4 linked regions of the Homo sapiens genome follow. The main gene of each other region encodes a partner of the protein of the gene in region 4 in a complex. Each region holds a gene or a part of one and is shown on either strand. Other genes may lie near its edges. The genes, in order: MYBL2, E2F5, E2F4 and TFDP1.

Region 1 (7,030 bases), on a different chromosome or scaffold from region 4:
TGAGCAGAAAAGGTTTGCTTAGCACGCATCTGGAAAAACATCTTTCATGATTTAAAAGGAGTTTACCACTCACACAGCAAGTTTTAGAAAAAACAAAACAAGCTAGTCATGGTGGCTTCTGCCTGTAATCCCAACACTTTGGGAGGCCAAGGCAGGAAGATTGCTTGAGCCCAGGAGACCAGCCTGGGCAACATAGCAAGACCCTCTTCTCTATTTAAAAACAAAAAACAAAAGCAATACAAATAATACAATACAAAAAAAAAAACCCAATCCTAAAATTAAAGACATCTATGATGTTAACTATGGGTTGAAAACAAAACAAAACAAAAAACACTGAAGAACTGAAGACACTAAGAAAAACTGAGGTAAAATAAAAAGGCCAGTAGAAGTCTAAAATGGTACAATCCATTAAGAAAAAGGCAGTTTCTGTAAAACTAAACATACACCTACCCCATGACCATACCTATCTTCCCAAAAGAAAGGGAAACATGTATTTGCAAAAAGACTTATGCAAGAATCTTCAAGGTAGCGCTATACACGATAGCCAAAAACTGCAAACAGTCCAAACATCCATCAACAGGTGAAACGCTGTGTGGTATACCCATACAATGGACTACTATCCAGTGATAGAAAAGGACAAGTTACTGAATCACCCAACACAATGCTGAGCAAAAGCCAGACGCAAAGAATGTAACCGTATGATTTCATTTATAGAAGATTCAAGAACAGGCAAAACATATTATCCTAAGCAAACACAGGAACAGAAAACCAAATACCGCATATTCTCATCTATAAGTAAGAGCCAAACACTGAATACACATGGACACGAAGAAGGGAACAAGGAGACCAGGGCCTACTTGAGGGTGGAGGGTGGGAGGAGGGTGGAGGGTGGGAGGAGGATGAGGATCAAAAAACTACCTATTGGGGCTGGGTGCAGTGGCTCACGCCTGTAATCCCAGCACTTCAGGAGGCTGAAGTGGGAAGATCACCTGAGGTCAGGAGTTCAAGATCAGCCTGGTGAACATTTTAGTAGAGACAAGTAGAAACCTTGTCTCTACTAAAAATACAAAAATTTACCAGGCGTGGTGGCACGTGCCTGTAATCCCAGCTACTTGAGAGGCTGAGGTAGGAGAATCGCTTGAACCCAGGAGGCAGAGGTTGCAGTGAGCTGAGATCACACCACTGCACTACAGCCTGGGCAACAGAGAGAGACTGCCTTAAAAAAAAAAAAACTACCTATTGGGTACCACGCTTATTACCTAGGTAACAAAATAACCTGTACATCAAACTCCCACGACATGCAATTTACCTATATAATAAACCTGCACATATACCCCTGAACCTAAAGTTAAAAACAACACACACACACACACACACACACAAAGCCCCCAAAAAGAAAAAGGCAAAACAAATCAAATCAGCAATTTCCTGGAGCTGGGGAAGCCTGACCACAAAGGACCACAGAAAACTTCTTGGGATAATCAGGGTGGTGCTTACATTGGTATATGCATTTGTCAAAAGTGATCAAACCGGCTCACCGTAGTGGCTCATGCCTGTAATCCCAGCACTTTGGGAGGCCAAGGTGGGTGGATTGCTTGAGGTCAGGAGTTCAAGACTAGCCTGGCCAACATGGTGAAACCCCATCTCTACAAAAATACAAGAATTAGCTGGGCATGATGGCGGGTGCCTGTAATCCTAGCTACTCAGGAGGCTCAGGCAGGAGAATCGCTTGAACCCAGGAGGCGGAAGTTGCAGTGAGTGGAGATCACGCCATTGCACTTCAGCCTGGGAGACAGAGACTCCATCTCAAAAAAAAAAAAAGAAAAAAAACTGATCAAACTGTTCACCATAAAAAGGGGCATTTGGCCAGGGACAGTGGCTCATACCTATAATCCTAGCACTTTGGAAGGCTGAGGTGGGAGAAATGCTTGAGCCTAGAAGTTTGAGACCAGCCTGGGCAACATGGCGAGACCCTGTCTCTACAAAAAATACAAAAATTAGCCAGGCGTGGTGGCGCATGCCTGTGGTTCCAGCTACTCAGGAGGCTGACGGGGGAGGATTGCTTGAGCCCAGAAAGTTGAGGCTACAGTGAGCCATGCTAGCACGGCACTCCAGCCTGGGTGACAGAGCAAAAACCCTGTCTCAAAAAGGAATTAAAAAAAGGGCATTTGATTGCATATGATTACATATAAATTATATTTCAATCACATTTATTATAAAATAAAAAGATGGAGCTAGAAGGAAACCAATTCAGGGCTTGATGTCAGAAGGTTCAATACAGTTAATTATTTTAGAAAAAGAAAGTGGGAGTTGGCAGGGTGCGGTTACTCATGCCTGTAATCCCAGCACTTTGGGAGGCCGAGGCAGGTGGATCACCTGGGGTCAGGAGTTCGAGATTAGCCTGGCCAACATGGTGAAACTCCGTCTCTACTAAAAAATACAAAAATTAAGGCCGGGTGCAGTGGCTCACGCCTGTAATCCCAGCACTATGGGAGGCCGAGGCGGGCAGATCATGAGGTCAGGAGTTCGAGACCAGCCTGGCCAGCATGGTGAAGCCCCCGTATCTACTAAAAATACAAAAAAAAAAAATTAGCTGGGCATGGTGGCGCATGCCTGCAATCCCAGCTACTCGGGAGGCTGAGGCAGGAGAATTGCTTGGAACCTGGGAGGCAGAGGTTGCAGTGAGCCAAGATCATGCCACTATACTCCAGCCTGGGTGACAAAGCGAGACTGTCTCAAAAAAAAAAAAAAATTAGCTGGATGTGGTGGCTCACGCCTGTAATCGCACCTGAGGCAGGAGAATCGCTTGAACCCAGGAGGCAGAGGTTGCAGTGAGCTGAGATTATGCCATTGCCCTCTAGCCTGGGTGACAAGAGCGAAACTCTGTCTCAAAAAAAAAAAAAAAAAAAGGGTGGGGGGAGTTACAGATTTGGCCAAACCTCCTAGCAGTCAAAAGGCAAAAAGCACAATCAATGTCCATGACATAGAACATGGCAGCTGCTCAGGAGACACAATGGGCCCTGAGGTCTAGGACACACATCCCCTTCCCACCCACTGAGTCCTCAAAATTGAGAATCCCCCAGAATGCTCTGAGAAGAGGCATGAGGACAATCAGAGGACCCATCCCTTCCTTCACCGGCTCCTCCTCTTCATCCCATCTGATGAGACATCAAATACACTCCAGGCTCAGTTCCTCTGGACAGCCCCCAGCTGCCATCAACCCTCTCTTCCCCATGGCACTCACCTCCTCATGGGTCCATTTGACCTTGCACTTGCTATCCCTCTGCTCCGGCACATCTGAATCTGTGTCCTGGTAGTGCAGCTCATCCAGATCCTCGCTATGGGGAAAGCAGGCCAAGGGTCAAGGATGGTGTGTCCATATGTTTTACATAATGGAGAACGTGTAGGCAGCGGCCAGCCCACCCTAGGGAAAGGTCTGGGGGAGAGAGGCTCTTACTTTTTCTTCTTTTTAAGACATAGGCACTTCTGCTTCACTTATTTTTATTGAGACAGGGTCTCACTCTGTCACTGGGCTGGAATTCAGTGTGGCATGATCGTAGCTCACTGCAGCCTTGAACTCCTGGACTCAAATGATCGTCCCGCCCCAGCCTCCTAAGTAGCTGTGACTACAGGGGTATGCCACCACGCCCGGCTAACTTTTGTATTTTTTGTAGAGACGGGGTCTCACCATATTGCCCAGGGTGGTTTTGAACTCCTGGGCTCAAGCAATCCTCCCACCACGGCCTCCCAAAGTGTTGGGACTATAGGCATGAGCCACCACACCCGACCTCACCTCTTTTTAAATTTTTTAATGAAATAGGGTTAAGAGCTACTTTCTTCTTTTTTATTTTCAGGAATGCCCTAGTGATTTCAAAAGCTGTAAAAAAAAAAAAAAAAGAGGCCAGGCACAGTGGCTCAAACCTGTAATCCCAGCACTTTGGGAGGCCGAGGTGGGTGGATTGCTTGAGGTCAGGAGTTCAAGACCAGCCTGATCAAACACAGTGAAACCCCATCTCTACTAAAAATACAAATATTAGCTGGGTGCGGTGGCGCATGCCTGTAATCTCAGCTACTCAGGAGGCTGAGGCAGAAGAATTGCTTGAACCCGGGAGGTGAAGGTTGCAATGAGCCGAGATCATGTCACTGCACTCCAGCCTGGGTGACAAAGCAAGACTGTCTCAAAAAAAGAAAAGGAAAAAGAAAGTTAAGATTTCACCAAGAATATTATGTTCAAAATCAGACTATCGCTTTTTCCTTTCAGTAACAAACCTGCATGGATATTTTAAGGAATAAAGTTGATGAAGTTAACAGGCATCAAGATTTTAAGAGATATTAGTTATTTGGAAAAAAAATTCTGAATATATTCTCTATGTCCATTTGTTGTTTTTCTTCTTTTAGGGACAGAGTCTGGCTCTGTTACCCAGACTGGAATGTAGTGGCATAATCACAGCTCACTGCAGCCTCCAACTCCTAGGCTCAAGCAATCCAATTCTCCCACCTCAGCCTCCCAAGTACCTGGAACAACTTGCATATGACACTATGCCTGGCTATTTTGTATTTTTTTGTAGAAACATCTCACTATTTTGCCTAGGCTCATCTGGAACTCCTGGCCTTAAACAATCCTCCCACCTTGGCCTCCCAAAGTGCTGGTATTACGGGCCTGAGCCACTGTGACTGGCCAAGTTGTTTTTTCGTGTGTTGATTTTTTTTTTTTTTGTAATGACAGGGTCTCAGTATGCTACCCAGACTGGTCTTGAACTCCTGGGCTCAAGGGATCCTCCTGCCTCAGCCTTCCAAAGTAACTTGGATTACAGGTGTGCACCACCGTGTCTGGCTTATGTCCATTTTTGCAAATCCCTTTTCAATCCTTGCCTACACACAGGCATAATTAATGGAGAGAAAAATCAGTGTACAGTATCTATTTTTTTTTTTTGAGACGGAGTTTCACTCTGTCACCCAGGCTAGAGTGAAGTGGCGACATCTCAGCTCACTGTAACCTCTGCCCCCCAGGTTCAGGCGATTCTCCTGCCTCAGCCTCCTGAGTAGCTGAGATTACAGACGCCTGCCACCGCGCCCGGCTAATTTTTTTTGTATTTTTAGCAGATACAGGGTTTCACCATCTTGGCCAGGCTGGTCTTGAACTCCTGACCTCGTGATCCACCCGCCTTGGCCTCCCAACGGGCTGGGATTACAGGCGTGAGCCACCGCGCCCGGCCCAGTGTACAATATCTTCTAACGCCGCTGTAGGGGAAAAAAAAAAAACAGTACGAGCTGCTTTGAATTCTGGGTGTTTTTACTCTACAAGGCAATCTTCCAAGTTGCTCCAAAAAATCCTCGTATTTATCCAGTTTAATAGTTACAAAAATGGAAATCGGGCCAGGTGTGGTGGCTCACACCTGTAATCCCAGCACTTTGGGGCCAAGGCAGGCAGATCACCTGAGGTCGGGAGTTCGAGACTAGCCTGACCAACATGGAGAAACCCCGTCTCTACTAAAAATACAAAATTAGCCGGGTGTGATGGTGCATGCCTGTAATCCCAGCTACTCAGGAGGCTGAGGCAGGAGAATCGCTTGAACCTGGGAGGCGGAGGTTGCGGTGAGCCAAGATCAAGCCATTGCACTCTAGCCTGGGCAACAAGAGCGAAACTCCATCTCACAAAAAAAAAAAAAAAAAAAAAAAATGGAAATCAGCCGGGCGCGGTGACTCATACCTGTAATCCCAGCACTTTGGGAGGCCGAGGTGGGTGGATCACAAGGTCAGGAGTTCGAGACCAGCCTGGTCAACATGGTGAAATGATGTCTCTACTAAAAATACAAAAAAATTAGCTGGGTGTGGTGGCATGCGCCTGTAATCCCAGCTACTCGAGAGGATGAGGCAGAAAAACTGCTTGAACCCAGGAGGCGGAGGTTGCAGTGAGCAGAGATCAGAGATTGTGCCACTGCACTCCAGCCTGGGCGACAGACGAGACTCCATCTCAAAAAAAATAAATAAATAAAAACCCACAAAAATTAGCTGGGCATGGTGGCATGTACCTGTAGTCCTAGCTACTCGGGAAACTGAGGCAGGAGAATTGCTTGAACCCAGGAGGCAGAGGTTGCAGTGAGTCAAGATCGTGCCACTGCACTGCAGCCTGGGCAACAGAGGGAGACTCCGTCTCAAAAAAAAAAAAAAAAAGAAAAAAAAGAAATCATAGGATCCACCTCCAGAGATGTCAGGTGCTTGAGGAAAGTTAGTAATCTTTCCCCAACTCCACCCGACAGGACCTGCATCAGGTCACGTTGGTCAGGTAAGTTGCTAGGTCAGACATTTGTAAACTGGAAAAAGCTTACAGGTTTCCAAACAAGGCAAGTCTTGTTTGGAAATGAAACAAATGAAAGAAGGCTTACTGTGCTATCCACATTACCTTCTCCTTGTTCTCCAAAGCTCACCGTTGCTTCCTAGAGTCACTCCTATACTTCCATAGCACATGGGAAACCCTCCTGTCTCGGGCCCTTACACTGCAACTGCCTGTCTCCTCCACATCATCTACAAAGGTCAGCTCCACCTTGGCATCCCAGGGTTTATCACCAAAAGGGCTTAAGAAATGTTTGCCCAGGGACTGACTGAATATACAAATAAATGAAAAAATGTGCAAAGCTGCTGCCTATTAGTCAATAAGAAATACTAATTAAATTTTTTAGGCCAGGCAAGACCCAATTTCAAAAGAAAAAAATTTTCAGAAATAGGAAAGGAGGGACGGTGTCTACAGTCAGCAATACAGAAGGATCTGGAATTCATTCCTGACCCAGTTCATGGGTCCTCCACCACTTCAATATAGAAGGCAAAAATCCAGAAGATACTAATAACAGAATGAAGTTGGCTTTAAAATCAACTGCCCCCAGACAGCTCGTGACAGAAACCATCTTTGCTTCTCCAGCATCCAGCACAAAGGCCTGGCTTCTAACAGAAGGTCAGCAAATATTCTTTCAAGGATGAAATGATGTCTGCATGGACACTCCCTGGTGCTCCAATGCTGTTTGTTTGTTTGTTT
Region 2 (7,471 bases), on a different chromosome or scaffold from region 4:
GGCGGGCACCTGTAATCCCAGCTACTTGGGAGGCTGAGGCAGGAGAATCGCTTGAACCCGGGAGGTGGAGGTTGCAGTGAGCAGAGATCTGCCACTGCACTCCAGCCTGGGTGACAGAGCAAGACTCAGTCTCAAAAAAAAAAGGCTTTAACGATCTTTTACTATGGTGTATAATAAGAAATATCATTGGAAAGATTTCAATGTAAGATTTTTGGCCGGGCGCGGTGGCTCACGCCTGTAATCCCAGCACTTTGGGAGGCCGAGGCGCGTGGATCACAAGGTCAGGAGATCGAGACCATCCTAGCTAACACAGTGAAACCCTGTCTCTACTAAAATTACAAAAAAATTAGCTGGGTGCGCTGGCGGGCGCCTGTAGTCCGAGCTACTCGGGAGGCTGACACAGGAGAATGGCGTGAACCCGGGAGGCGGAGCTTGCAGTGAGCCCAGATCGCGCCACTGCACTCCAGCCTGGGCGACAGAGCAAGACTCCGTCTCAAAAAAGAAAAAAAAAAGATTTTTACATATATAAGTATATATAAATAAATGAAAAATATACGTAAAATACATAAAACATATGTTTTTCATACATATATATGAAAACTAAAGACATTCAAACTCTTTTCTAGGAGTATGAAGTCATTAATATAATGAGACAGTGTTATTGTAGAAACCTTTGAATTTTTAGGAGAGTTCCAGAATGAATAAAGCAATTATTGTCATGAAATACCAAACTTTACATCCTACTCACTGCCTCTGTGACTTCTGTAGGGCAATTATATAGCCACAGATGAAACAGGAGGAAGCTAAAGAATTTCAAGTCAAGAAAGGGCAAAGTTCCACCATATCCTGAGGCAAGCTGAGGGAGAAGCCCTCAAAGTCCAGCCGTCAGAGTTCAGTTTTACCTGGAAAACCCCAAACTTCCCTGATTTTCTTACACCAAAGTCACAGGCTACAGCTGAATTTCTAGATTTTGAACAGCAGTTTGCCACCTGTGCTTTGTAACATTCCTGGCTTTCTCTGATAACTTCATGACTTCCTGTGAAATTCTTTAAACAGAATCCATTTTAATTCACTACAATTTAAATACTACACATGCCATAAATCACTTTCAGGGAGAGAAAGGAAGAAGGGGCTGTGGTGGAAAAAAGAGAACAAGGAATTTCCAGAGGTGGGAAAAAAATTCCAGGAATAACATATCAAAAAGAAAATAGTAGAAATTACTTACCAAAATGCAAAATATGTGCAGCATGCCTCAGTTGTATGAAGTTGAACAATTTAGGTAATTCAGTTCAACAATCACTGATTGAACACCAACTACATCCAGGGAAAGGAGAGGGCACTGAAAAGATCTACTTCCCCTTGGGCTACACTGGAGGAGGGCCTCTAGCAGAAGAGTTGGCCCCTGCAAGTCTTGGTCCTTACATTCAGGGAGCTGCCACTGCTTTATGCAGAGCCTTGAGGATGCAGTGACACTCTCAAGCCAGGTAAGGTGGTCCAGGCACTCCCCTGGGAGCTGGGGCCAATCCTCCAAGTAAGGCCACATTTAGGGAGTCAAAGGGGATTTGCAGTGATTATTGGGCAGTTAGTGTTTTTTGTTTGTTTGTTTCTAAAACTTTAGTTCTTAAACTTCGCGCGGAGTGACCACATTCTCATTATCCTGAGCGCTGTTGAATTCTTCCAAATCCTTCCTAGATCGGTTAAGTCATTCTGTATGACAGAACAGCTTTTGATGCCTGCTCCTGTTTGAAAAATCTGAACGCTGTAAAGGACGACGCAGGGAGAGAGTTTACTGAGCACTTCCACCTCTTTGGGTGAAAGTTGTAAAATATCCCCTTTTCGTGTGACAGCAGATCTCACTTTTGGAAACCCATGACACATGCCAAATGAAGTCACAAATCAAATACCCCTCCTAACTATCAGGGTGATGAAAGAAGTGCACAAGGAAGATTTAATACTATTTTATCGGGGAGGGGCGTGGAAAGAAGTACTCTTTTTTTTTTTTCTTTCATCTGGTAGAGATGGCAGACTGGGTTTTGTTTTTCCTCCTTTTTATTTAAACTACAGGAACATGGTTCCAACTGGAATCGCCTATTAAAACCATCCATTCTTAACAGCAAAATCGATATCCACGGTGTCTCCGGGCAAAGCGCCCGTTACCCCGTGAGCCTCTGCCACAGGTGGACGCAGAGCAACAGACACTCGGTTACCCTCAGGTCCCTGCGCCCGGAGACAGAAGCCACGCGGGCGCGCTCGAGGTCCTGGGCTCTTTGTCGAGAGCCCAGCGTGGCGCCGGGCCCCATTGGTTACGCGTCCGCTCGGTGCCATCCTGGTCCCTCGTCCCTCCCCCATCCCGGCGTCCACGACCCGGGCGCAGGCCACATGGTCCTCGGATTGCCCGGTCCCGGGTCCCCGCAAGGCGCGTCTACACCACGCCGCTAGACCCACGCGGCGAGGGGCTGGGCTTCCCCGGGGGCCACGGGTTCCGAAGTCCGCCCCCGTCCCCGCCTCCGGAGCTCACCGCTTTGAGATCCAGAACGCCGTCCTTGGCCTCCTGCAGCAGCGACACGAACTTGGTAGTGAGCAGCCCCAGGCTCTTCTCGTGCCTGCTGCTGCCGCCCCCGGCGCCCCCGAGCTGCGGCGGCGGGGGCGGCTGCGGGGCTTGCGCCTGCGGAGGCTGCGGCGGCGGCCGCTGGCCCTGCCCCTGCCCTGCCGGCGCCTGCTGGCCCGAGCTCGCGGGCTCTGCCGCCGCCATCGCGTCCCGGCCCCGCGGTGGTCGGGCCCCCGCGCACTTTCGCTCGCCGGCCCCGCCCGCGGCCACCTGCCGGGTCGGCTCCGCTGCGGCCGCTTCCCCGCCCGCCGAGAGCGGTAGTGCGGGTCGCTGGCTGCTGCAAACAACAGGTGTGCGGCGCCCACGGGAGTCTGGGCCGCTTGTCACGCCGGGCCTCCGCCCCCTCCCCAAGCCCGGGGAAGCGTGAATGAGGCCCACGACCGAGGGGGGAGGGGTGGAAACGAGGAGAAGGGGCTGCGAGGGGTGGGGACCTGAGTTTAAATGGCAGGAAGTGACGCCGCCGCCCGCCGTTGCCTAGAAACACATTTTTCTGTAGGAAGGAGGAGCGCACGAGGAGGAGGAGGGGTGTTGGCGCGTGTGTTTCACACTCGCCTCCCTGGCGTTCGCGAGCTGACCCGAGGAGTGGTAATCTCACGCGGCAAAGCAGGGAGGAAGAAAAAAAGGAGACAAAAGAAAAAAAGACTTTTATCTGGGCAGAAAGTCACAATGCCTAGCGGCCAAACGTTTGTGAGCGGTGAAGTTGGTTGACTGCTCAAGTTTGCAGAGCTTCAGCAGTAGGTTACTTTCTCTGGACGGTTTCTGCTATCTTTGCTCTTTTCGAGCTCTAGCATCGTTTGCAAATATTTCAATGACTTGGACCAAGTGCAGAGTTTTACTTCATAGCTCACCCTTTTAGATTCGGAGTACAGAAAAAGGCATCGTGGAGTTTTAGGGTTGGTTTTCATCAATCCTTTCCAAGGCCTTTACTTTCTACATGGAGAAACGTGTAGAGGGAGAGGTTGTGAATTGCCAAAGACATGCCGTTAGATTCCAGATCTCCTGTGTTTGACCAAAGTTCTTGACCAAAGTTCTTAATATCTTATTTGAACCAAATTATATTGTATTTGGAATATTGGGTAGCCACAGGCCCTTGGACTTCAGTGATATTCCAAACTATTGATGGCAAATGACATTATGGAGATCTGAGTAAAAGAAAGTCGTTGGGATTTTTTCCTCATTATATTACAAACTCTTGAGAATCCAGACTAAATTTTAAATGACTTGTTGTCACACTCAACACTTTGAATATAGTAGACAATAAAGATTAGGCGAATGAGACCAGGCGCGGTGGCTTACGCCTGTAATCCCAGCACTTTGGGAGGCCGAGGCAGGCAGATCATTTGAGATCAGGAGTTCGAGACCAACCTGGCCAACATGGTAAAACCCCGTCTCTACTAAAAATACAAAAATTAGCGGGGGGTGGTGGTGCCCGCCTATAGTCCCAGCTACTCCAGAGCCTGAGGCAGGAGAATCTCTTAAACCCAGGAGGCAGACGTTGCAGTGTTGCAGTGAGCCGAGATGCCACCACTGCACTTCAGCCTGGGCAACAAAGCAAGACTCTGTCTCAAATAAAAAAAAAAAAGATTAGGTGAATGAAAATTCTATATGGCAATAATTAATCAAGAAGATTTCATGCAAGAAAGATTTTGCTTAATTTTAAGTAACAATAAACTAACAAAAAAGGTCACTGAAGCGACATCAAATACAACAGCATTAACTAGTAAAGCTGAACACACCATTTATAACACATCATAGGCACAGAACTTTATAACCTTTATTAATAACCTATTCATAATAACCTTTATTTTAATCAAATCTATAAACAAAACTTAAAATTGAAAATCTGAAGTAAAACATGAAAAATTCAGTTGATACAACCATTTTCCAACAACCTATCCAAGAAAGGCTATCTTTATTTGATTTGACATGGGACACATCATTGACAAGTTTTGCAAATTTATTTTATTGATTATTGTCAAGTAGTATTTCTTAGAACATACTGAATTAGGAAGATTCTAATTTGTTTTTAACTTTATAACAGAACATTGTGTTATATGTGCAGGGACAGGAATTAATAACACTAAATGTATTAATATTTTTAAAACTTACACTTCTATGGTGTCTTAGTTTGAGAAAGTACCATAAACTGGGTGACTTAACGGAAATTAATTTTCTCACAGTTCTGGAGGCTGCAAGTCGACGATCAGGAGGCTGCCATGGCCAGGTTGTGGTGAGGGCCCCCTTCTTGGCTGTCAGATTGTGGCTTTCTCATTGTGTCAAATGGCAGAGAGAGAGAGAAAGACAGACAGAACAGAGACAGCATAAGCTCTCAGATTTCTTATAAGGGCACTAATTCCATCTGAGGGCTCAATCTTCACGATTTCATCTAAACCTAATCACCTCCCAAAGGCCCGAGGGTTAGGGTTTCAACATACAAATGTTGGGGAGATATAGTTCATCCCATGGCATGTAATCATATTTTATAGTAGCTATCTTGGTAATTTTTAAAAACAATATTTTTTAAATTTCAGCTTTAAAAGGTTTTCTACAAAGCAATTATATTATTAGTGATTCTAAAAGGTCAATTAACAATTTATTTTGCACTGTTATTTGTGTTTTTCACAATGAATTTTTTATCTCTTTAGATTGCCTGGGGTTCAATTAGAAATTATTCACAAATTAGCAGCCATTTTAATTAGCATTCAAAATCTTATGTCTGTCTGAAGAGCTAAAAATCGCTTATACCAGTGGTTCCCAGACCTTAGGGGAAAAAATCATCTACAATGTTTGTTAAAAATCTAGATGCTTGGATCCAAACCCCAGGGATCAAATTAGCATTTGATATGAGAATATGACCTGTGAGTCCACATTTTTCACAGTTCAGATAATTCTCATGCACAACATAGTCATTCTTTGAGAAACGCCAAATAGCACAATGAAAAATAATGCAATATATATTTTTCCTAAAAATCGACAAAAAACAGAGATTGATAATGCAAAAGTTTTTTAAATATTGCTAAATGTTTTTAAAAATTCTATTTTTTAAAAAAACTAAGAAACATGATTTTTTAAAAGTTATGATACAAATAATGTTTAAGAACATGATATTGATCAGTTTTGTAATTTAACTTTTATTTCTGTATCCTTTTGACTATAAAGGAGATAACTCTCAAAAGGCTGTAAATTCCTACATCAGTTCTTTGTGCCATTTCTGACAAAGGCTTAAAAATTATTTCCAACAAAAGTCAAAGCTGGCTGAGTGCTCACGCCTGGCTGGGCACTCACGCCTGTCTGTAATCCTAGCACTTTGGAGGGCTGAGAGAAGAGGATTGCCTGAACCCAGGAACTCAGGACCAGCCTGGACAACATGGCAAAACCCCATTTCTACAAAAACTACAAAAATTAGCTGGGCGTGGTAGTGCACACTTGTAGTCCCAGCCACTAGAGAGGCTGAGGTGAGAGGATCACTTGAGCCCAAGAGGTCAAGGATGTAGTGACCTGTCATCCTGCCACTGCAATCCAGCCTGAGTGACAGAGTGAGAATCTATCCTAAAAAAAAAAAAAAAAAAAAAAATCCAATTGAACTAAACTATATTTCATTGACCTATAAGGGTAATAAATGCATAACAGTAATCCTTCATTAAATTCAATTTACGCTGATTAGTTGGGTAGATACTATTTTCAATTATAATATTGTTTATATGCCCCTGGTTAAATTTTCTTTTTTTAAATGCATTTTGGAAGTGCAGCTCCTTAGCTAGTTCAGGACTAAGAAGGAAGGCTTAAATATTTCAAAACAGAATGATTTCTTAGTCCACAGCTCATTAAACTTATAGTATCTAACATTTGTGGAATTTCACAAATGCCATTTTTATAGAGATTCAGGATCAATTTAAAATATGCACAGTTTTGTCATAATCTGGTAGTTAAATATTTAAGAAAATCCAACAAAATTTTACTTGTTTATTGATGATGACAGACTGACTTTTTTTTTTTTTTTTGAGATGGAGTTTTGCTCTTGTTGCCCAGGCTGGAGTGCAATGGCATGATCTCAGCTCACTGCAACCTCTGCTTCCCAGGTTCAAGAGATTCTCCTGCCTTAGCCTCCCTAGTAGCTGGGATTACAGGCATGCACCACCATGCCCAGCTAATTTTGTTTTTTTAGTAGAGGCAGGGTTTCGCCATTTTGGTCAGGCTGGTTTTGAACTCCTGACCTCAGGTGATCCACCCACCCTGGTCTGCCAAAGTGTTGGGATTACAGGCATGAGCCACCATACCTGGCCATGCAGACTGATTTTTTAAGTGCATTAGCCCATTCGGTGATCATGAATGGTTGGAACTTTAGACTCTCAGATGCCCTTTGAGCTAACAAATCTCCATCAAAAGACTGCTACATCAACCCTAATACCTTCTTCTTGTAATCTAAGTTAATGAAAATAAAATACAGTTTTCCATTTTTCCTTTCAAAACCTTGCAACATACAGGCCAGGCACGGTGGCTCACACCTGTAACCCCAGCACTTTGAGAGGTCAAGGTGGGTGGATCACCTGAGGTCAGGAGTTCGAGACCAGCCTGGCCAACATGGTGAAACCCTGTCTCTACTAAACATACGAAAAATTAGCGAGCATATTGCCATGCGCTTGTAATCCTAGCTACTCAGGAGACTGAGGCAGGAGAATCACTTGAACCTGGGAGGCAGAGGTTGCAGTGAGCCGAGATCGCACCATTGCACTCCAGCCTGGACAACAAGAGTGAAACTCCGTCAAAAAAACAAACAAACAAACAAAAAACCTTGCAACATACAAACATCTATCTTCTGCACTTTCTATGTTAAAAAAAAAGATATGTTTCAAAGATTATGAA
Region 3 (4,294 bases), on a different chromosome or scaffold from region 4:
AATGAGCCTTTTTTGTTTTTGTTTTTGAGACGGAGTCTCACTGTGTCCCCCAGGCTGGAGTGTGCAATGGCGCGATCTTGGCTCACTGCAACCTCTGCCTCCCAAGCTCAAGAAATTTTCCTGCCTTAGCCTCCTGAGTAGCTGGGATTACAGGCGCCCACCATGCGCAGCTAATTCTCGTACTTCTAATAGAGATGGGGTTTCACCATGTTGGCCAGGCTGGTTTCGAACTCCTGACCTCAAATGATCTGCCTGCCTCGGCCTCCTGTAGTGCTGGGATTACAGGCTTGAACCACCATGCCTGCCTGAATGGGCCCTTTTTAACAGGGAACCTCTGACTGTGGGAAGAGCCATTGCTGGTGGCAGTTTTCTCCCCCAGATCCACATCCACTGGTGTCTCAATTGCCCTGGTAGCCCGTCTTGAAGTATGGCCACAGCAGACATGTTGACCACGAGTCTTCTTCTGTAGGTCTTGTGTCCCTGTCTCCTGTGGTGACTAATTTCAGGTTACTTCCTCTGGGGGTGACTGGCAATGCCTAATTCTCCTTGGGTCTGGGAACCAGGCTTGTGGTCCTCCTGTGTCTGGGTTCCAGCACAGCCAGTTTCAACGACCTCTTCCTGACCTTGTATGACTGGGTTTGGGGGCTATCATTGTAGTGAGTGGCGGCCCTGGGACTGATAGCAAGGACAGTGGTGAGCTCAGTTCACTCCCACTGGGCCCAACAACACTGGACACCCGGCCACTGCAGTCTTCTGCCCTGCTGGACAGCAGCAGCAGCAGCAGCAGCAGCAGCAGCAGCAGCAGCAACAGTAACAGCAGCAGTTCGTCCGGACCCAACCCTTCTACCTCCTTTGAGCCCATCAAGGCAGACCCCACAGGTGGTGAGTACCTGCCCCCTGGGGGCAGAGAGAGAGAGTCTAGCCTCAGTCCAGTCCTAGGTCAGAAAACAGAATTGGGGATGGAACCCAGATCTCCTGTCAACCCTGCTGGACACGAGAGCTCTCTGCCAGCACCTCTGGGTCAGTGCTGGTGCCCCCTCTAGCACCCCATCCTAGGCTAACACAGAACTCCCTGCCGTCTCTCAAGCCCTTTCCTGCCACCCCTTGGAGCACCGCCTCACTAATTGACACTTCTCTGTATCACTCTCTCTCATCTTCTCTGTCTCCTTTCTGTCTGGACTCCTTGAAAAAGTAATCTCCATTCATTAGTCTCCTAGTCACCTTTCAGGTTGCAGCAGTCACCCCCCCAGCCCCAGTGTTACAGCGGTGTTACTCTTGAGAAGCTGCCGAAGGCCTGCCGAGCCCAGCAGCCTCCAGCGTGTTTTGCTGGTGCTCTCTTGGTCTGTGTCAATATTCTTTCCTCCTTTGGCATCATGATGCCAGCTTTTGGCTCTCCTATCTCACTGGCTTCTTGAACTCTTCCCTGGCGTGTCCTTAAACATTGCTGTTTTTGAGGGCTCTGTCCCATTCCACTCCTGGAGAGGGCTGCAGCTCTGGGTGAACGAATCCCCAGCCTCCGCCTGGCCTAGATCTTTTCCCAATCTGCACACTTCGGTGTCCACCTGCCGTCCTGTGTACATCCAATGGACACTTTATTCCTGCATGTCCTCAACTGAACTTAGTTTCCTCCCGAAGCTTGCTTTCCACCTCTGCGCACCCAGCCGTCAGCCCTAGTTATCCAGGCCTGACCCTTGGCTCTCACTCTAGTTCTAGTTCCTTATCCCTCCTCCTTCTGCTGCCCACCCCATGCCAGCTAACTGAGGTCTGTCCCAGATGTCCCCTCCTATCCTCTGGTATCCTCAGCACTCAGGATGACCCCTGGCCACCTCTGTCCTGGATTCTTCAGCATCTTTCTCTTTACCCTGACTGACAGACTAATCTTTCTGAAATGCAGGCCTGACAGAAAAATGTGGCATTTCTCTGTTTGCAAAAGTACCTTTAATGGCTCCTTGAGGGCCACCAGATAAGATCTGAACTCCTGAGCCTGGCATGTGAAATCCCTCATAGTCCTCTCTGGTTGCATTTTCTTCTGCTTCCCCTGTGTCCTCCTGGCCAGAGGTTTGTAGTGGAGTCATCACCCTGTAGCGCCACCACCTCTGCCTGGTGACCTGACCCAGGGTCTGGTCTCAGTCTTGCACAGAGCAGGTGCTCAGCAAGGGTGGGACAGATGGGGTACCTTCTGTCAGACAGGGGGTGCATGCTGAGCCCAGAAAGAGGCTTCTGTGGCCTTTCCGAGTTAGAAAAGCTGTACCAATCGCTTGCAGGGGGCCTTTGGTACCCTGGGCTCAGCACTGAGGAATTCAGGTTTAGCAAGTGAGGCCAACAGACAGTGCCAGCTTGGCCTAGGCAGGACCTACATCTCCTTAGCTGTGTGGAGCCTCAGGGTGGGTGGTATAGGATCCGAGGAAGCCAGGGGGCTGTAGTGGGGCCAGGCTGGACCTCTGTGCCCTGAGCATGGCTTTCTTGTTTTTCAGTTTTGGAACTCCCCAAAGAGCTGTCAGAAATCTTTGATCCCACACGAGGTAGGCTGCTGCATTCCTCCCTGAGGCTAGGGGTAAGGGACACAGCTCATTGGGTCCTATGGCTGTTTTCTTGCCCTTTTGAGGACCTTGTTGTGGCGCTTATGGTAACTGGGGCAAAGGGTGAAGTTCCTGATGGGCAGGTGGGGTTCCCTTTCCTGGGCTTTGGTGGGTGGAGAGGTGGGAGCTGGAATGTTAGTAACTGAGCTCCCTCCATTCCCAGAGTGCATGAGCTCGGAGCTGCTGGAGGAGTTGATGTCCTCAGAAGGTGGGTGGCCCTGGAAGGTGGGAGTGGGTGTGGGCAGGGGTTGGGCTGCTGCTAGGGGAGCCCTGGCCCAGGGCCTGAGACTAGTGCTCTCTGCAGTGTTTGCCCCTCTGCTTCGTCTTTCTCCACCCCCGGGAGACCACGATTATATCTACAACCTGGACGAGAGTGAAGGTGTCTGTGACCTCTTTGATGTGCCTGTTCTCAACCTCTGACTGACAGGGACATGCCCTGTGTGGCTGGGACCCAGACTGTCTGACCTGGGGGTTGCCTGGGGACCTCTCCCACCCGACCCCTACAGAGCTTGAGAGCCACAGACGCCTGGCTTCTCCGGCCTCCCCTCACCGCACAGTTCTGGCCACAGCTCCCGCTCCTGTGCTGGCACTTCTGTGCTCGCAGAGCAGGGGAACAGGACTCAGCCCCCATCACCGTGGAGCCAAAGTGTTTGCTTCTCCCTTTCTGCGGCCTTCGCCAGCCCAGGCTCGGCTGCCACCCAGTGGCACAGAACCGAGGAGCTGCCATTACCCCCCATAGGGGGCAGTGTCTTGTTCCTGCCAGCCTCAGTGTCTTGCTTCTGCCAGCTCCTTCCCCTAGGAGGGAAGGGTGGGGTGGAACTGGGCACATGCCAGCACCACTTCTAGCTTCCTTCGCTATCCCCCACCCCCTGACCCTCCAGCTCCTCCTGGCCCTCTCACGTGCCCACTTCTGCTGGGCCTTTAGCCCTAGAACCTGCAGGTGGTGGGGGCGGCTACCAAGAAGGAACAGAGGTCTCTGGGGAGGAGTCTGGGTGGTCCAGCCCTGATGATTGGCCCCACCTCCTGCTGCCCCATAACCCTCTCTTCATTTCGGCTTTTTCATTTACCCTCATTTAGAGCCATTTGCAGAGATTTAGAAAGATTTACAGTAACGAATGGATTCCTATATAAAGATTATTTTTATACTTTTTGCAGCAAAAGGAAATTGTAATATTTGTACAGTGTTCAAGTGAATAAAAACCATGCCTAAGGCTAGCTCTGATGTGGTTCTTTGGGGACCCTCCTTGGGACTGTGCTGGACTGGCAGTGTGATTGGGTGGGTCACCTTGCTGGAACTAGGGGTGGGGCGGCCTCCGGCAGCCTGCCCTCCCCGCCCCCACCTGCCGCACCTTGGTGTGGGGCGGGGCCGCCTCGGCGGGGCGGGGCAGGCGGAGCCGTCCTACCTTCCTACCCCCAGACTCCAACCCGGAACTAACCTCGGCTCCCTTGGGAAGGCCGCGTTGCATGGCCAGGAGCAGCAGTCTGGGCCGCGAGTGCGGGACACCGAGGTCAGGTCTCGGAAAGGGAGGACCTCCTCGTCCCCAGGGGCCCCAGGCCAGGTGCACCCTTGGCCGCAGGTGCACGGTCTCCGGAAAGTGCAGGCGCCCACGTCCCAGCTGGACCATGGCGCCTCCGCGGAACGTGGTGAAGATTGCCATCAAGATGCGTGACGCCATCCCGCAGCTCATCCAGCTGGACCAGGTCACCCGGCTGGT
Region 4 (7,030 bases):
ACCCGCCTTACAGGCGTGAGCCACCGCGCCCGGCCTAGCTAACTCTTTTAAGTAGAGGTGTGACATTTGAGTTTTGAAAAGATGATGTTGGCAGCTTTTGCAGAAGGGAACATCGATAACCAGTTAGGTGTTTTGTTTTTGTTTTTTGAGACGGAGTTTTGCTTGTTGCCCAGGCTAGAGTGCAATGGCGCGACCTCAGCTCACTGTGACCTTGGCCTCCTGGGTTCAAGCAGTTCTTCTCCTCAGCCTCCCAAATAGCTGGGATTACAGGCGCGCCACCACACCCAGCTAATTTTTTGTTAGTAGACACGGGGTTTCACCATGTTGGCCAGGCTTGTCTTGAACTCCTGACCTCAGGGGATCCACCCACCTCGGCCTCCCAAAGTGCTGGGATTACAGGCGTGAGCCGCTGTGCCCAGCCCACCAGTTAGGTTTTTAAAAGCACTGGTACTGCAGTAAAACCACAGGTGTATGTCAAAAGCCTTTATGCTGGGGGAAAGCTGTGCCACTTGGGTTGAAGGAGGCAGGCCTCCAGCTTCTAAGTGCCCTGGGGCCTCTGTAGAGGGCCATGAGGGGCCACAGGATGCAGGGAGCTGGAGCTAGGCCCTGGTAGTCACCATGGAGGAGGAGAAACAAGGACATCCAAGACCTGAGGCTGGAAGGTTCTGGAGAGAACACAAGAGAAAAACAACTCCGGAGCTTCCAACCTCAAGTAGGGCACAGGGAGACAAGCGGGTGGGAAAAGGCCACAAATGGCTCCATGTGAGTGAGGGGCAGAAAGAAGAGGATGAGGTCAGTCCTCTGGGGGTGTCATCTTTGAACAGCAGTTGACAGGCAGTGGGTGTGAAGGTCTATATGGCAAGGAGCTACACACGAGGGAGGAGAGAGGTACTCTGAAAAGTTTGCAGAGTGGGTAGGAAATGACTGTGGAGCAGTGAGGAGAGTGATCAGTGATGGTGTAGTAGTTAGAGAGTGAGTGGTGGTGGACTTGATGGAGAGTGAGTGGTGGTGCTGGAGTGGTGGAGAGTGAGTGGTGATGGTAGATTGGACGGAGAGTGAGTGTGGTAGACTCGGGGACAGTGAGTGGTGATGGTAGATTGGATGGAGAGTGAGTGGTGGTAGGACTGGGGGAGAGAGAGTGGTGATGGTGGTGTAGGTGGAGAGTGAGTGGTGATGGTGGAGTTGGTAGAGTGAGTGTGGTGATGGTGTTGTGGGTGGAGAGTGAGTGATGGTAGTGTTGTGGGTGGACAGTGAGTGGTGATGGTGGTAGACTGGAGGAGAGTGAGTGTGGTGATGGTGTTGTGGGTGGAGAGTGAGTGGCGGTGCTGGAGTGGGTGATGTAGGGTCACAGAAGGAGGAAACAGCCTAGAAGGTGGCTGCCTTTGATGGTCCTTGAGTGGGCCCAGCTGGAGAAATGGTGAGAAGGATTAGGTTTCTGTTGTCTTGCTCAGGGACTTTTTATTTTATTGCACTTATTTGAATTAAAATGGTAAATTCAAATGGAATATTTGTGTTTATACTCTGTTAAGTGGGAGAATGTGGAGAACAGGAGTCAGCTGCCATACGGCCACCTGGCTGGCTCCGGGAACCTGAGGCCTGGTCTTGCCCAGCAGGAGCGCTGGCATAGCATGGATCACTTACAGAAATTTATGATCAAGATTATGGGCTGCTCCTGGCAATATGGGGAGGATTTCCTTGCTGTGGGGACTGTCTGTTTCCATGCCTGGCCCACCCGGTCTGTGATAGCCTCAGGTGCAGTCCTGTCTTAAGTTTGGAGACACCCTGGGAGGTCCGTACAGACTCTTTGAGTTTCTGAACTGTCCTCGAAACATCTCAGGCCCTCCGCCTCAGGGCCTAGGGAGGCTGTCCTCTGGTTCCTGAACAGGGTGGCTCTGACCCGCAGATCTGTGGGCTCCCGTTGCAGGTACCGGTGGTGCTCGGAACCGTCCTCAGATTCAGTCTTGGAAGGTGCTTTGGCACCTCCTTAGAGTCGGACAGACCCTTGTCACGAGTCAGTCCAGCTGCAGGGGCTCAAGTTGTTCTAGAGCTGGGCTGGCAGGGCCCTTGGGTGAGGGAGTGTGGCTTGGCACTGGCATCTCAGCCTGCGGCCAAGTTTCCTGCCTGCCCAGGCAGCATGACCCTTGGTGGGATCAGGCAGAGCTCTGCCTCTCCCCTCCCTACCTCGGAACATCCTGTCGTCACACACGATTGTCCAGTGTCATGAAAGTTTGTAAGTGGGAAGGCAGGCAGATGATGAATTCATCAAACATTACAGGGATGCTTTTGCTGTAAGACTTCGGGATGTAGCCCGTGTGGGGCTGTTTCTGGGGTCCCGTTCGCCTCTCCAAGCTCCTCCTGCCATTGGTAAAGATGCAGGGCATCTGAACTCGCTCTTGGGCTGTGCGGGCACTTGGACCTGGTCAGCTCCCTGTGCAGAGAACGTGGCTGTGGACGTCACTGCCCGGTATTCACGTGCCTTGGTTGTGAAAGCCGTTCTGTGGTGCCTGTTTGTGTCCTGTGAGTTTATGGGGAAATCCTGAAATTGAGAGCTGGGGACCAAGAGAACTGTGTGCGTCCCACCATGGAGGCGTTTGAGTGATGCTGTCACGAGGCTCTGCTAATGCCAAGAGGGGACCAATGAGCTCCTCTAAGGGTCTACCACCAGGTGTCCTTTTACAGACCTGGATGGTGAAGTTCAGGCCTGAAGAGGTGAACCTGATGCAGCAACAAACTGCTGTTTCCTTCAGTGCTTGAAGGAGTGAGTTCTGGGAACAGGATTCAGCGACTCAGGCCTTCTTTTGTCCTCATAAAGAAACAACTTTACATTTGAGGTTAAGAAGGTTGTCAGTTTAGCCCCCTCAGGTTTAAGTGTTGAAGAAATCTATGATGACGTGCTTGTTTTTACAAGAGTCTTTTCATATTTCAGGATTTTTTTTTTCTACATAGGATGAGGTTAGAGAAACTCTGAAGGGATATTAAAAATTAGAAAATTATAGGTTGGGCCGGGCGCAGTGGCTCACGCCTGTAATCCCAGCACTTTGGGAGGCCGAGGCAGGTGGATCACAAGGTCAGGAGATTGAGACCATCCTGGCTAAGAGGGTGAAACCCCTTCTCCACTAAAAATACAAAAAATTAGCCAGGCATGGTGGTGGGCGCCTGTAGTCCCAGCTACTGGGGAGGCTGAGTTAGGAGAATGGCGTGAACTCGGGAGGCGGAGCTTGCAGTGAGCAGAGATCACGCCACTGCACTCCAGCCTGGGCGACAGAGCGAGACTCTGTCTCAAAAAAAAAAAAAAAAAAAAAGAAAAAGAAAATTATAGGTTAATTAAAAGTTTTGCCCCTGCTGGGCACGGTGGCTCATGCCTGTAATCCCGGAGGCCAAGGCGGGTGGATCACCTGAGGTCAGGAGTTCGAGACCAGTCTGGCCAACATGGCAAAACCCTGTCTCTACTAAACATACAGAAATTAGCTGGGCGTGGTGGCGGGCGCCTGTAATCCCAGCTACTCTCGAGGCTGAGAAGGAGAATCGCTTGAACCCGGGAGGCGGAGGTTGCAGTGAGCCGAGATCACGCCATTGCACTCCAGCCTGGGTGACAAGAGCAAGACTTCATCTCAAAAAAAAAAAAAAAGAAAAAAGTTTTGCCCCTAAAACATGCTTTAAAAGAGGTATTATAGGAACATCTGGTATAAAATTCAAAGAATAAAAAAGGACATCTTTTTTCTTACATAATCAGCTCTTTGTTAGCTCTTTACTTTTGGTATTTGGAAGAAATCTCTGGAGTTCGTTGTGTAAGAATTGGAAACCTCACCTTTGGTGCACAGCTCGATTTGCAGTAGAAGTATCAGGTGCTCTTTAGGGGATGTTAAAAACTTTTCACTCTTGGTATTTACATTAAAAAATACTTTGTTGTAGAACAATTAGAAAATCCAGATTTGCAGTTGATATTTAGCTTGACTTACAGTGTGGCTTTCTGCTGTTTGTCATAAGAGACTAGATTTGTCAAGTTTTGCTTAGAGAGGAGGACTGGTAGCAGCAGGTGGCTTAGACTACGTGTGGGGATGGATCTGCGAGGGGAAGGGCAGATGTCAGCGTTGGCTGAATTAGAGGCTGAATTAGGTGACCCCTCATCCCCCAGGTGTCTTACTCAGATGATTCTGGTTGTTCGGGTACTGGCCATGCACTGCTCTCTGTATCTTTGTGTGTAGCCCAAGCCTGGAAAAGCATCCGCCCTTTGTACCTTTTTCCCGACTGGCTGAGATTCCCGCAGCATCCCGACTCCGCTTCAGGGCTCCTGTGAGGACAGGGACTATGGCTTTTAAGTTGTCGCACAGGTCATGGGCACTATTCACATGTGCTGCAGGTAATTTTGAGACTCAAGGATGAAGAGTTATATCTGCCTCTTCCCGTTAGTCTTTTATGTGAATCCTGTTTGTTTGTTTGTTTCGAGACGGAGTTTCGTTCTTGTTGCCCAGGCTGGAGTGCAATGGCACGATCTTGGCTCACCACAACCTCTGTCTCCCGGGTTCAAGCGATTCTCTGACCTCAGCCTCCCAAGTAGCTGGGATTACAGGCATGCGCCACCATACCCTGCTAATTTTTTGTATTTTTAGTAGAGACGGGGTTTCTTCATGTTGCTCAGGCTGGTCTTGAACTCCCGACCTCAGGTGATCCGCCCGCCTTGGCCTCCCAGAGTGCTGGGATTCCAGGCGTGAGCCACCGCGCCTGGCCATGAATCCTGTTTTTCTATGGTCCAGTTTCTAAGGGATTCTGGTCTGATGAATGAAAACCTTGTGTGTCCCCTGTGGCTTTGGGATACAGTATCTTTTAACACAGGTGCTTGCCCTGTGCACCCTGGTCTTCTGTTCATTAACATCGCGTCACTGGGGTCTGAGGAAAAGAGACAGTGTGATCCGCTCCAGTGAATGGGGAAGCAGGAGAGGGTCAGAAACCTGAATGGGTCAGCCCAGAATCCAGCATTGCCAACACATCCCTGGCCCTCCCCTCCTGCCCAGGTGACAGGTGTGGCATATGCTGGTCCTCAGCCCTGCCCAGGAGACAGTTGTGGTGTCTGTGGGTCTTCAGCCCTGCCCAGGTGACAGGTGTGGTGTGTGCTGGTCTTCAGCTGTGCCCAAGAGACAGTTGTGGTGTGCACGGGTCCTCAGCCCTGCCCAGGTGACAGGTGTGCTGTGTGCTGGTCCTCAGCCCTGCCCAGGTGACAGGCGTGCTGTGTGCTGGTTCTCAGCCCTGCCCAGGTGACAGGTGTGCTGTGCACGCGTCCTCAGCTATACACAGGTGTCAGGCGTGATGCGTGTGGGTCCTCAGCCCTGCCCAGGTGACAGGTGTGGTGTGCGCGGGTCCTCAGCCCTGCCCAGGTGACAGGTGTGCTGTGTGTGGGTCCTCAGCCCTGCCCAGGTGACAGGTGTGCTGTGTGTGGGTCCTCACCCTGCCCAGGTGACAGGTGTGCTGTGTGCTGATCCTCAGCCCTGTCCAGGTGACAGGTGTGCTGTGCACGCGTCCTCAGCTATACACAGGTGTCAGGCGTGATGCGTGTGGGTCCTCAGCCCTGTCCAGGTGACAGGTGTGGTGTGCGCAGGTCCTCAGCCCTGCCCAGGTGACAGGTGTGCTGTGTGTGGGTCCTCACCCTGCCCAGGTGACAGGTGTGTGTGCGGGTCCTCAGCCCTGCCCAGGTGACAGGTGTGCTGTGTGCTGATCCTCAGCCCTGTCCAGGTGACAGGTGTGGTGTGCGCGGGTCCTCAGCCGTGCCCAGGTGACAGGTGTGCTGTGTGTGGGTCCTCACCCTGCCCAGGTGACAGGTGTGGTGTGTGCGGGTCCTCAGCCGTGCCCAGGTGACAGGTGTGCTGTGTGTGGGTCCTCACCCTGCCCAGGTGACAGTTGTGCTGTGTGCAGGTCCTCACCCACCCAGGTGACAGGTGTGGTGTACACGGGTCCTCAGCTGTGCCCAGGTGACAGGTGTGGTGTACGTGGGTCCTCAGCCCTGCCCAGGTGATAGGTGTGGTGTGCGCGGGTCCTCAGCCGTGCCCAGGTGACAGGTGTGCTGTGCACGCGTCCTCAGCTATACACAGGTGTCAGGCGTGATGCGTGTGGGTCCTCAGCCCTGCCCAGGTGACAGGTGTGCTGTGTGCTGATCCTCAGCCCTGTCCAGGTGACAGGTGTGGTGTGTGCGGGTCCTCAGCCGTGCCCAGGTGACAGGTGTGCTGTGTGTGGGTCCTCACCCTGCCCAGGTGACAGTTGTGCTGTGTGTGGGTCCTCACCCTGCCCAGGTGACAGTTGTGCTGTGTGCAGGTCCTCACCCACCCAGGTGACAGGTGTGGTGTACACGGGTCCTCAGCCGTGCCCAGGTGACAGGTGTGGTGTACGTGGGTCCTCAGCCCTGCCCAGGTGATAGGTGTGGTGTGCGCGGGTCCTCAGCCGTGCCCAGGTGACAGGTGTGCTGTGTGCAGGTCCTCACCCAGCCAGGTGACAGGTGTGGTGTACACGGGTCCTCAGCCGTGCCCAGGTGACAGGTGTGGTGTACGTGGGTCCTCAGCCCTGTCCAGGTGGCAGGTGTCCTGTGTGTGGGTCCTCACCCTGCCCAGGTGACAGGTGTGCTGTGCACGCGTCCTCAGCTATACACAGGTGTCAGGCGTGATGCGTGTGGGTCCTCAGCCCTGCCCAGGTGACAGGTGTGCTGTGTGCTGATCCTCAGCCCTGCCCAGGTGACAGGTGTGCTGTGTGCTGATCCTCAGCCCTGTCCAGGTGACAGGTATGGTGTGCGCGGGTCCTCAGCCCTGCCCAGGTGACAGGTGTGCTGTGTGTGGGTCCTCTGCCCTGCCCAGGTGATAGGTGTGGTGTGCATGAGTCCTCAGCCCTGCCCAGGTGACAGGTGTCCCGTGTGCTGGTCCTCAGCTGTGCCCAGGCTTGGGCTGTGGGTGCCGCCCGTTCCCAGTGGACATGGAATCCTTGTGTTACTGAGTGACCTGCGTGTGCTGGTTGCTGCACCAGCGGGCTTTTCTGTCGCAGTTGCTTTTTA

Evidence for each region.
Region 1: TFDP1 (region 4) and MYBL2 share a complex: the UniProt entries of both Homo sapiens proteins name them as parts of the DREAM complex.
Region 2: the proteins of TFDP1 (region 4) and E2F5 are in contact, whole or in part, in a crystal structure (PDB 5TUV), measured with the Homo sapiens proteins. Residues at the interface, in NP_009042.1 of Homo sapiens: Glu201, Cys202, Leu205, Glu208, Arg209, Arg212, Leu213, Arg215, Ile216, Lys219, Gln220, Leu223, Leu226, Ile227, Gln230, Phe233, Leu236, Val237, Arg239, Asn240, Arg241, Arg249, Pro253, Ser255, Val256, Ile257, His258, Leu259, Pro260, Phe261; in NP_001942.2 of Homo sapiens: Val126, Arg129, Leu130, Lys134, Glu136, Ile137, Leu140, Glu141, Glu144, Leu147, Asp148, Gln150, Lys151, Leu154, Gln155, Ser157, Ile158, Val161, Met162, Ile166, Asn167, Asn168, Arg169, Phe170, Ser171, Tyr172, Val173, Thr174, His175, Asp177.
Region 3: TFDP1 (region 4) and E2F4 share a complex: the UniProt entries of both Homo sapiens proteins name them as parts of the DREAM complex.

What each region holds. Positions count from the first base shown.
Region 1 is NC_000020.11:43,670,114-43,677,143, reverse strand, and holds part of MYBL2 (myb-related protein B), read right to left. Parts: intron 3,339-7,030; coding exon 3,245-3,338; intron 1-3,244. UniProt on the Homo sapiens protein: Transcription factor involved in the regulation of cell survival, proliferation, and differentiation. Transactivates the expression of the CLU gene.
Region 2 is NC_000008.11:85,172,702-85,180,172, reverse strand, and holds the start of E2F5 (transcription factor E2F5), read right to left. Parts: upstream 3,020-7,471; 5' UTR 2,753-3,019; coding exon 2,519-2,752; intron 1-2,518.
Region 3 is NC_000016.10:67,195,125-67,199,418, forward strand, and holds the end of E2F4 (transcription factor E2F4), read left to right. Parts: intron 1-657; coding exon 658-882; intron 883-2,474; coding exon 2,475-2,522; intron 2,523-2,742; coding exon 2,743-2,787; intron 2,788-2,883; coding exon 2,884-2,999; 3' UTR 3,000-3,794; downstream 3,795-4,294. Other genes in the region: ELMO3 (engulfment and cell motility protein 3), read left to right, coding at 4,203-4,280. UniProt on the Homo sapiens protein: Transcription activator that binds DNA cooperatively with DP proteins through the E2 recognition site, 5'-TTTC[CG]CGC-3' found in the promoter region of a number of genes whose products are involved in cell cycle regulation or in DNA replication.
Region 4 is NC_000013.11:113,587,729-113,594,758, forward strand, and holds part of TFDP1 (transcription factor Dp-1), read left to right. Parts: intron 1-7,030. UniProt on the Homo sapiens protein: Can stimulate E2F-dependent transcription.